Regions from separate parts of the Homo sapiens genome. Here region 1 is linked to region 2. Evidence: fine-mapped expression QTL. A gene starts in region 2. The other region holds a variant in brackets. All regions are shown on one strand. Distances are between the middles of the regions.

What was found.
Region 1: its variant is fine-mapped to the expression of MAGEA8 in cerebellum (GTEx, PIP 0.98).

What each region holds. Positions count from the first base shown.
Region 1 is chrX:149,706,376-149,711,762 of GRCh38, reverse strand. It overlaps a transcript of MAGEA11 not described here. Among named protein-coding and RNA genes, the nearest start is that of MAGEA11, 3.0 kb to the left of the region's middle. The variant C/A (reference allele first, on the strand shown) is at 2,621.
Region 2 is chrX:149,878,188-149,883,574 of GRCh38, reverse strand. MAGEA8 (MAGE family member A8) reads right to left here and starts at 2,392. Exons shown (of 3, transcript NM_005364.5): 1 at 2,290-2,392. It overlaps LINC00850 (long intergenic non-protein coding RNA 850), which reads right to left. Exons shown (of 3, transcript NR_109813.1): 3 at 3,776-4,228. MAGEA8-AS1 (MAGEA8 antisense RNA 1) reads left to right here. Exons shown (of 5, transcript NR_102703.1): 2 at 1,077-1,207; 3 at 3,717-3,774; 4 at 4,217-4,309; 5 at 4,579-4,812.

The DNA of each region.
Region 1 (5,387 bases), 170 kb after region 2:
CTGAGGTGGCAGTGAGCGGGAGGTGTGAGGTCGGGGGACAACATTGCCAAGGTCTTCCGGGGCTGACAGGAGGGACCGAGCTGGATTCTGTGGCCCCTCTATGTGGGGAGGGTGGACCGTCAGTCCTCACTCAGGAGGGTCCTCCTCTTGGCTACTGGTTCTTTCATGAAGTGATGGGTGGGAGATGCTCTGTTTCTGTCACCTCTGAGCATTGCCCAACTGCACCCCTTGCAGACAATAGCTGCGGATCCCAGGCTAGGTGCTTCCATGTGGCTTCAGTACCCGTGATTGTAGTGACCTCTGGGAGAAGATGCACACCTTCCTACGGGGGCTCCTCCCCAGCCAGATCTAGACTTTGCAAACTTTTGCCCTGAAAGCTTTATTTTTACACTGAAGAGGCTGAGTGGCTGCAAGAAATTTGCGGAAGTCCTGCGTTTAGAATTTATCTAACACTTCATAGTTCATTTTAGTGATTTTCATTTTTTAATTCTCATTCAGTGTCAAAAATCATACTTAACCTAACTGCCTATTTCACTCTAATGGTCAATACTCTAATTTAATCCATTCTTTATCTTCAATTAAAACGATAATTTTTAAAAAGCCAATCTTTATTTACTGACGTGGTTTTAGTGGTTATCAGCACAAATTCCAGCCGTATTCCTTTAATCAACCAGTGTTTCCTCATGTCCTGAAGTTACCCCATGACTACTGGCACCTGTGGTCTGAGACCCTACCCGAGTTTTCCACAGTGAAGTAGGGGCAGAATTTTAAACATTTCTTTCTTCCTATCCACCCCAACTTCCCTGCCACTCTTCCCCGCCAATCACAAGTATTCCTTCAAAATACAATGAAATTCTCAGGGCTCTCTCATGTTTTTTTTGTTTAGATTTCTTTTTTGATATTGTTTGCTTGTTCCTTTATTTATTTATTTTTATTCTTTAGTTTTCCCGGGTTGTTTTGGGGAGTCTAAGATAGAAGCCCAAGACTGAACGCGGTGGTTCACACCTGTAATCCAAACACTTTGGTAGGCCAAGGCAGGAGGATCACTTGAGCCCAGTAGCTCAAGATTAATCTGAACTACATAACAAGACCCCATCTCAAAAAAAAAAGAAAGAAAGAAAAAGAAAAAGAAAAAAGAAATGAAAAATTAGCTGGGTGTGGTGGCGTGTGACTGCAGTCCCAGCTGGTAGGGAGGCTAAGGTGGGAGGATCACTGGAGCCCAGGATGTCAGTGCTGCAGTGAGCTGTGTTCACACCACTGCACTCCAGCCTTGGAAATAGAGTGAGGTCCTGTCTCAAAAAAACAAAACCAAACCAAACAATCAAAAACCAACAGATGCCTGAGCTTGACAGTCATCTTGGCTGGTTAAGGAATTACGTCTGTCAATTTTTGAAAAAATAGAATTGCCATCTTTGCAATATTCTGTTCCCTATCAATGATATCATATACTGCCTTGTTTATTTGGGTGCTCTTTGAACTGGATATATCAGTACTTGTATAGTTGCCTCAGTAAAAATCATACATGCTTTTGTTAGTCTTCTTGTTAGGTAATTTTTGGATATTGTTGCTATTGTGAATGGGGTATTTTCTATGACCTGTTCTTAATAGTTATTGTCTGTTTTGCAAATCTTTTGATTTTGCTTTATTGATCTTCTGTTCGCTATTTTTCACACGTCTCTTATTCATTTGACTATTTCAAGTGTGCATTTTTTTGAATTTTCTAGATAGACTGTTGCATTACCCTACCAAATATCACTCTTTCTTTCCAATACACATACCTCTTATTTATTTTGGTATCCATATCTGTGGCTTTGTATTCCAATACAACTTTGAAAAATAGCAATGATAGCATACATTTATGACCTGTGCCTGACATGAATGCGTCCAACATTTTACAATTAAGTATATTTGCTATCAATTTGATGAAACAAAATTTCCTTCTACTCTTAATTTTCTAGTTATTTTTATCATGGATGATTACTAATTTTTTCAAAATATTTTTCTGTATCCATTAATATGATCATATGTTTTGCCTCTATAATCTTGTTAATATAGGGAATCACACTGAAGGTATATTTTAATGTCAAATTGTATTTTCATTCTTTGGATATATCCCGTTTTTCCATTTAGTACACTGCCCTAATGAATTGGCTATTAATTTATTTAGGATATTTGTTGCTATGTGAGTAACTTTGGTTTAAGTGTTCTTTTCATGGTGAGGTCCTCTTCTGGTATTTGAAACAAAGAACACTAGTCTCAGAAAATGAGTTCCACAGTTGCCCATCTTTTTGTATGGTTTTTAAGAGTTTGCTTAGGATGGCAATGAGTTCTAATTATTTGGTAAAACTGGCCTCTGAAACTTTCTTTTCCTGGATCATTTGTGGGTGGCTTGAACTGAGAATACAGTTTTAGTTTGTAATGTTTGATTAAAGTTTTCTGTTTCTTTATGGACCAATTTGATCTTTTTTTTTTTTTTTCGAGACAGAGTCTCGCTCAGTCGCCCAGGCTGGAGTGCAATGGCACAATCTCAGCTCACTGCAACCTCCTCCTCCCAGGTTCAAGCAATTCTCCTGCCTCAGCCTCCTGAGTAGCTAGGATTTCAGGTGTGCGCTACCACACC[C/A]GGCTAATTTTTGTATTTTTAGTAGAGACGGGGTTTCACCATATTGTCCAGACGGGTCTCGAACTCCTGACCTCGTGATCCACCTGTCTCGGCCTTCCAAAGTGCTGGGATTGCAGGCGTGAGCCACTGCGCCGGGCCATTTTTTTTTTTTTATAAAATATAGTTCATTTCACTTAGGATTTCAAATTTAATGGCATGATATTATGATGAAATAACTTTATTAAAGTGTCAGACATGTAAAATAGTATAGTATAATATACCCAATATACTTGATATTCAGCATCAAAAATCTTCAATCCATTACTAATCTGTTTCCAACTATACTTCTACCTACCCCACGTCTCAAATGCTGGAATAATGTAAACCAACTCAGTAACCTTGGATAGAATACTGGATCCAATAAGCCAGTTCATGGTACAGTGCAGCTGACCTGGCTCTGAGACAGCCTATGGCTCAGAGAAAAGGGTCTGGCTTCAATAGACCAGCCTCCCTAGACCCCTACCTCCTACTCTCTGTTCCAGGGTCCTGAGGTACTGCACGCCTTTGTTCTCTTCTAGACACATGCTCCTATAATACTGCTAGCTAATACTGCTTTCCAGACACCCTTGGGTCTCTCTCCAAATATCTTCTCTGTGAGGCCTTCTATGAATAACCTTTCTTTTTCTTCATAGAATTTGTGTCTTTATTATTTATTTTTGTAATTTCACTTTCATTTTAGATTCAGGGGGTACGTGTGCAACTTTGTTACATGGGTATATTGTGAGATGCTGAGATTTGTGATATTATTGATCCCGTCACTCAAGTAGTGAGCATAGTACCCAATAGTTGGATCCTGACCTTTCATCATATACAAAAATTAATTCGACATGGATTAAAGATTGAAATGTAAGACCTCAAACTACAAGAATCCTAGAAGAAAACCTAGGAAACACCATTCTGGATATCACCCTCGGGAAATAATTTATGACTATGTTCTCAAAAGCTATTGCAACTAAAACAAAAATTGACAAGTTAACCTAATTAAACTCAAAAGCTTCTGCTCAGCAAAAGAAACTATCCACAGAGTAAGCAGACAACCTGCAGAATGGAAGAAAATATTCCCCAACTACGCATCTGACAAAGGTCTAATATTCAGAATCTATAAGGTGCTTAAACAATTGAACAAACAAAAACAAATAACCTCATTAAAAAGTGAATACCCTTTCTAAAATTGCAATCCTCCCTCTTAACTCATCCCAAACACTTATTCAGTTCTCTAGATTCAATTTGTTTCCATAGTATTTATCACCATGTCAACCAAAATTAAGACTGGTTAGGCAAAAATAAGAGGATAAATGTTTATTGGAAGCCAAATGTGAGGACTGACCTGGGAGGAGAAACCAACAAAGTTGGGAGTGTTCTGGAGAGTCTTACAAGTTGGAAGGGTTTTATGAGAGTTTAGAACAAGAGAGAACTTTTTATATGGCAGTTGTCGTTTTTTATTAGAGGATACAATACGGAGGTTAGAATCATTGTACCAAATTGCAACATACAGACTAAAATGTCCATGTGCAAAACAACCAGTAAAATTTCATGATTTAAAAATAAATCAGCAAACTTTTCAATGTTGGTACATTACATATTAATCCATATGTAAACAATTTGTGGAATGCAGGATAAGACACTTTACTGAGGGACAGGATGGCAACAGAAATCACAAGACCTCCCCCAGGTGAGTTCATTTGGAAGCCTACCAAAGGTGATTTGGAAGTTAACCATTAAATCTACTGCACCTTTAAGTTTGTTTCATGATTTATTGTGTGCCTACCCTTTACCTCACTAGAATGTAAGTTCCACCTAGGGAGGAAATGTGTTCAATATTGTATCCTCAGAGCCCAGGACAGTGCCTGGCACACAATACATGCTCAGTATTCATTTATGGAATGAATAAAGAACTGCCAGTTCTATGGTCCTAGTATTTGGAGCTTCTCTGGTACTAAAGTCTCATGGAATTTTCAATCTTTCCAAACACCCAACAGCCAAAGTTTGAATGCTCCCACTATCTTCTAATTGTTGGCTCCTGGACCAGGTAAGCATCTGAGTTTTAAAGGGACTCCAAAGGCCTGCTTTCCCAGCTTCTGGTTTGTGCTCCTCACATCCTGGGTAAGTGAGCATGGCAGGGCTCTAGCCACCCAGGGCTATCTGAACACTCTCTCTTGTCAGGAGGCAGCTGTGACCTTTCCCTGATGCCCTGTTTCTTTTTCCATCTTGTTTGGATATGCAAGTTAACACAGTAGTCCTTGCAAGGTGGAATCTAACAGCCTAATTGTACCTGTTGGGATTTGGGGTTTCCTTCTCCTGAGGCCCATCTCTGAGCCCCCATCACCTTGGCTGCAGTGCCCACACTTGCCCACAGTCTCCCGTATCTGACTTCAGTCTTCCCAACTGGGGCTTGGAATTGCAGCTCTCCAATACAACTACTCAAGACTCAGTGCTGAGGCTTATGAACAGTTAAACTTTTATTTAAAATTCTCTACTTAGAAATCCCCTTCCAAAGTATTATGGTTCAGATAGAACTGGCAGAAGATGAGGTAGCCATTTGGTGAGTTTCCTAGGGGTTGGTAAATAATAAAAGAATGCTGTGTGAATGAGTGACAAATCACTATAATGATGACTTACTTTTCAAATGATCCCCTATGTAATGCCCACACATTAATTAAACTAATCACCTCGTTAAGGCGCCTATGAGTTTTTGCTTTCTAAACTTGATCCAGAGAGGTGATGCCGA
Region 2 (5,387 bases):
CCCACATCTGGCCCCACATGCCCAAGGCCTCCTGGGAAAAAAGCAATAGCTACACAAAATGCAATGGGGCCCACGTGTCCTGTCCTAGGGTGAGAAAAAAGCAATAGCTACACAAAATACATTGGGGCCCATGTGTCCTGGGCTGACCTGAGGCCACTTCCTTAATCCAAGGACCTATCTCCAGGAGACACTGGAAGAGCAAATGAGGGGATTCCATCCACCCACCTTTCCCTGCACTTCCCATGGCTGACAGAAGGTGCAGGGTGGGGTTCGGTCCTGTGTGTTTGGTGAGTGGTGTCCTCTGAGTCCCTGACTCCTGGCAGGGCCTTGGACCCCCGCTCTGCTGACCTGAATGCAGTGCCCTCAGACCAAGGCCTTCTTCTCCCTGAGACCAATGAGTCTGGTATAACACAGGGGCCTCAGCTGATAGTCCTGCTCATGCTCTCAGGGGTGACAAAAGAGGCCGGGCAGATTTCTGTTGGGCCCCCATCTGTTTTTTGCCTGCTAGGAGAACCATCGAGGGTACCCTCAATCTTCCCTCAGTGTTGTCACCTAGACTCTTGGTAGATTCTTGGACCACTGAGTCTGTTGCCCACATGGGGGTCCCTGTTTTGTCCTGAGTTGCCCTCTGAGAACAAGGTCCTCACTTCCCTGAGATCTCAAGAGAGAAATGAGGAGCCACCACATCTGATGACCACTGGGTGGGGTGTCCAGGGGTGACACTAGGATCTGTCCCTACTTGTTCTTGAGTGGTGGGTTCTAAGGTCTTCAGGGGGTTATTCATCTTTCCCCTGATGGAGCCCGCCCTTCCTCAACCCACAACACCCTGATATGAGCAGACATCTCCCCTTACCACCAAGACCTTATCTTCCTGCGTTTCCCCAACTTCCTGCCCACAGTACAGATGAGATCTCCACTTAGGGCCACCCTTGATCGGGTTCCCCCAGAGATAATAACCAAAGTTAGCCAGACTTTGTGGGGTCCCTTCTTTCCAGGCCAGGAGTACCCCCATTCATCACAAAGTGAGCACATCTTGGGTCCTGCAGATCCTGTGACCCCGTCCCTCTGTTGAACAGGTGTGGCTCCCTCTGCTGAGCTGAGGACGCCCTTCAGACCCAGGTTGCTACCTCCCTGAGACCCAGGAGGCAGAAGTAAGGAGGCACTACATGGACAACCCTGCATGGGATTCCCACGGCTGACAGAAGTAGTAGGTTTCATGGGGTCTTTCTCTGTCTGGGTGTCATCCAGGTATTCATATTTACTCCACGACAAGGCATGGCCCTTTCCTTCCTGCTGAACCGTGGATGTGTCTTGCATGCCAAGGCCACCATCTCCTTGAGGCCCCCTACCAGAAAGTGGGGGGGCCACATCCCTTCCCCACTGTCCTGCCTTGGGTGCCCAGACCTGAGAGTGGGAGCAGGTTTCCTAGGCCATGATGGGAGGTCTGCTGAGTCCTCCTTAAGGGCTCTGGGGCACCTCTCTCCAGTGATCTGAGACTCCACTCCTCAGACCACAGCTGTCTCCTTTCTGACACCCTGAAAATGCAGCAAGGATGCGCCACATGCAGCCACAGATCCTGGGACTTCCCAAGGCTGAGATCTCCACTGATCTGGAGTCCAAGGACCCCTGAGTCCTCCCTCTTCTTCTTCTCCTTGACTCCTGGCAGGGCTGTTCACCACCCCCCTGCTGACTTGAGTTTCAGTCCCTCGGATTCCTGAGGCCAAATGTGGAGGCCCCTCAGTCTCAGACAGGTAGGGTGGGCCCCCTGTCCTGGGGTCCTGGGTCCCCTCGGGCCTCCTCATCTCCCAGCATAGCCTGGGCCCTCCCTCTGCTCCTCTTGAGTCCGTGCTCATGAAGCCCCTTTGCTGCATCAGCCCCGGATGCGGACGTCAGAATCAGCGAGCCCGGCCGCCATGCCCGGCCGCCATGCCCGGCCGCCATGCCCGGCCGCCATGCCCGGCCGCCATGCCCGGCCGCCATGCCTAGGGCTTCCCAGGGCTGACAGTAGGGGCAGAGATGTGCTCTGTGGAGCCTCAGCCCTCCCTCAGGGTCCTGCCCTTGATGCCTGGCAGAACCTGGGCCCTGCCCTCTGCTAACCAGCCCTGCTCTGGTCACACCAAGCTCTCACTCCAGATTCCCCTGGGGCTTAAGCGCAGGGCTGGCGAGGGGTGGCCCAGCCAGACAAGTCTGCCCCCTGGTGGTCCAGGGCTGGCAGCAGGGGCGGCGCTAGATTATTTTGGGTCCTATATGAGGGGTGGGGGCCTCCTCAGTCCTCCCTCAGGGTCTCACCTTGCCTCCTCACAGACCCTGAGCCCGCTTCCCTCAGCCGATCTCAAGCCGACCCCTCAGAACCAGGCCCTCGCTTCTCTCTGATCCCCGCGGCCACGTCAGTGGCGTCACATCCGTCCACCCAGGGCTCACCTGGGTGGACAACAGGGGCGGAACCGGATTCTAGTGGGGCGGGGGATGAGGGAGGAGCGGTTCAGTCATCCCTCAAGGTTCTCACTTTGAGATCTGGCAGAGCCTGGAGCTCCGTACTCTGCTGATGGTGTCTGCTTCCCTCAGACCAAGGTTCTGATTCCGAGTCCCCTGAGGTGGCAGTGGGGGGAAGGGTGTGGTGGGGGGACAAGGCTGCTGGGGTCTTTCAGGGCTGACATGAGGGTCTGAGCTGAATTATGTGGCCCCTCTATGTGGTGTGGGTGGACCCTCAGTCCTCACTCAGGAGGGTCCTCTTCTTGACTCTTGGCTCTTTTAGGAGATACTCTGTTTCTGTCACCTCTGAGCATTTGCACAGCTGCACCCCTTGCAGAGAATGGCTGCGGGTCCCAGGCCAGATTCTCCCTGTGGGTTTGCAGCACCTAAGATTGTAGTGACCTCTGGGAGAAGAGGCACACCTTCCCACGGGGGCTCTTCCCCAGCTAGAAGAGGATTTTGCAAAACTTTTGTACTAAATGATTTATTTTTACACTGAAGAAACTGAGTAGCTGCAATAAATTTGTGGAAGTCCTGAGTTTTGAAGTTACCTAACAATTCCTATTCCACTTTAGTGATTTTCATAATTTAATTCGCATTCGTATAGTAAGAAACGAATTTTAAATCTATGCCAATTGTATATGTGCATTATATTTATGTTTATATGCATAAACACATATGTATGTATATGTTTATATTATATATGTGTAATTATATGAATGTATGTGTATATATCTTTACATATATTTATACATATATGTATGTCGACTATACGTACTTATTTTATCAAACAATATCTACTCATACAATGTGTGATTCACTCATACTATTCTATTTCTAGTTCATTATATATATTTGATTAAAATAATAGTATTTTGGAAGGTAGTCCTAACCTACTCTTTGTTTCTAGTTGTTATTAGCAGAATTCTGGAGCCATGGTGTCTCAATCAATCCAATTTTCCTGGTGTCCTGATATTACCCCTGGGCTACTGGCTTCGTGTTTTGAGGTGCAGACTCGGATCCTACATTGATGTGGGGTGGTCCTTTAAAACTTTTCCTGCAACTCACCCTGTCGTCTGCAGTGGCTGCAGACCTCCTCAACCTCCCTGCCTCTCCAACTGCCCAGAACACAAGTACCAGTTCAACACAGTTTTTTCCCCAGGGTTTTCTATGTTTTGTTGTTTAGACTTTGTTGCTGATATTGTTGTTTTATTTTTCTTTTTCCCTTCTATATTTTTACACAGTTGATTTTGGGAGTAGAGCACAGCAGCCTGGGCTTGATTGTCACTTTGGCAGCTACAGGTAGGCATTAACTGTTTATTTAATTTAAGTAAGATTTACACCTTTGCTGTATTCTATTCCTCATCAGTGAACATCATATACTACTCCATTTATTTGGGAATTTTTTCTCTGAATCTGTCAGCAAACTTGTACAGTTGCTTCTGTAAATGTCTTGCATATTTTGGTTAGGCTTCTTCTTCTTTATATTTTGGATTTAAATGCTGTTGGGGATGGTATATTTTTCATTTTATGTTCTAAGTTGCTCATCTGTGACAAGTCTCTTGTATTCGCTGCAGTGGTCTTTGTATGCTGTCTTCTGAAGTCTCTTATTCATTTGAATGTTCCATGTGTCTCTTCCTTTGAATTTTCTTGATGGTCATATTGTGAAAAATATGATCTATTTCTTTTCAATCTTCATACCTCTTTTTCATCTTGATATCCATAGCTCTCTTTTTCATTTCAGCATTCACTGCAGCTGTGAACGGTAGCAGTGAAAGCATACATCAATGACTTGCTCCTGACGAGAATGGGAATGCTTCTAACATTTCACATTCAAGTATGTTTCCTGTCAGTTTTAGAAAATTAAAGTGCCTTTTAATCTTCATTTGCTAAAAATGTTAATTTGAAAATATGATAAAATTCATTTCAGAGGCTTTTTCTGTATTTTTATTCCTTGCATACGAGCTGCTTGTTCATTAGTCCACTGTTGTGTTGAATATACAATTATCTATTTAGGACATTTGCTGCAATATGAGTGAACACTTGGCTCATATGTTCTTTTTATAAAGGCTGGATGTCTTTATCTTTTTTTCCCCCCCAATGCAGGAGAAGGAGCCTTGGAGAATTCGTTGAATAATTGCCCGTATTTTGGGATTATTTGGAAGAGTTAATATGGTGATTCGTTTTCCCTGACCACTTGGGGGAACTGACCCACAAAACTGCCTGCCTTAGAACGGTAGAGGGTGGATTGAGCTTTAAATACATTTTCAGTTTGTGGACGTACCATTGGTTTTATCCATTCACCAATTGGAAAAAGTATTGATTGTCAATTTCAAATAAGCTGCTATATATGTTTTTGTGTACGTGATTTTGTGTGTATGAACCTGTTTCCAATTTTCCTTGATAAAACCTAGGAGTACAATTGCTGTGTGTAATGGTAAGTCTAAGTTTTGCTATATTAGAAATAGCCAAAGCCCCTTCTAGAGTGAATGTGTTCTTTTTCTTCTCTACCAGCAATGAAAGAGAATGCCACATCTTTTGTACAATTTGGTATTTTCAGGTTGTTGCATTGTATCAATTGTAACAGGTGGGTAGAAGAATGTTACTGCTGTTTACATTTGTATTTTTATTGAATAATTATGGTAATCATCTTTTCATATGCTTTTTTGTGATCTGTGTATCTTCATTGGTGAAGTCTTGAAATCATTTACTATTTTATTGGACTCTTCATTTTTATGTGGTTGCATGTTATAAGGTGTTTATTCATTCAGTATATGAATCCTTTATCCGACACGGGGTTTACAAGTATTTTCTCCCCATTTTTGGCTTTTTTCCCCATTCCTTTAAGTGTTTTTTTTTTTTTAGTAAACATTTTAGAGTAATTTTAAATTTACAGAAAAGTTGCGAAGACAGTT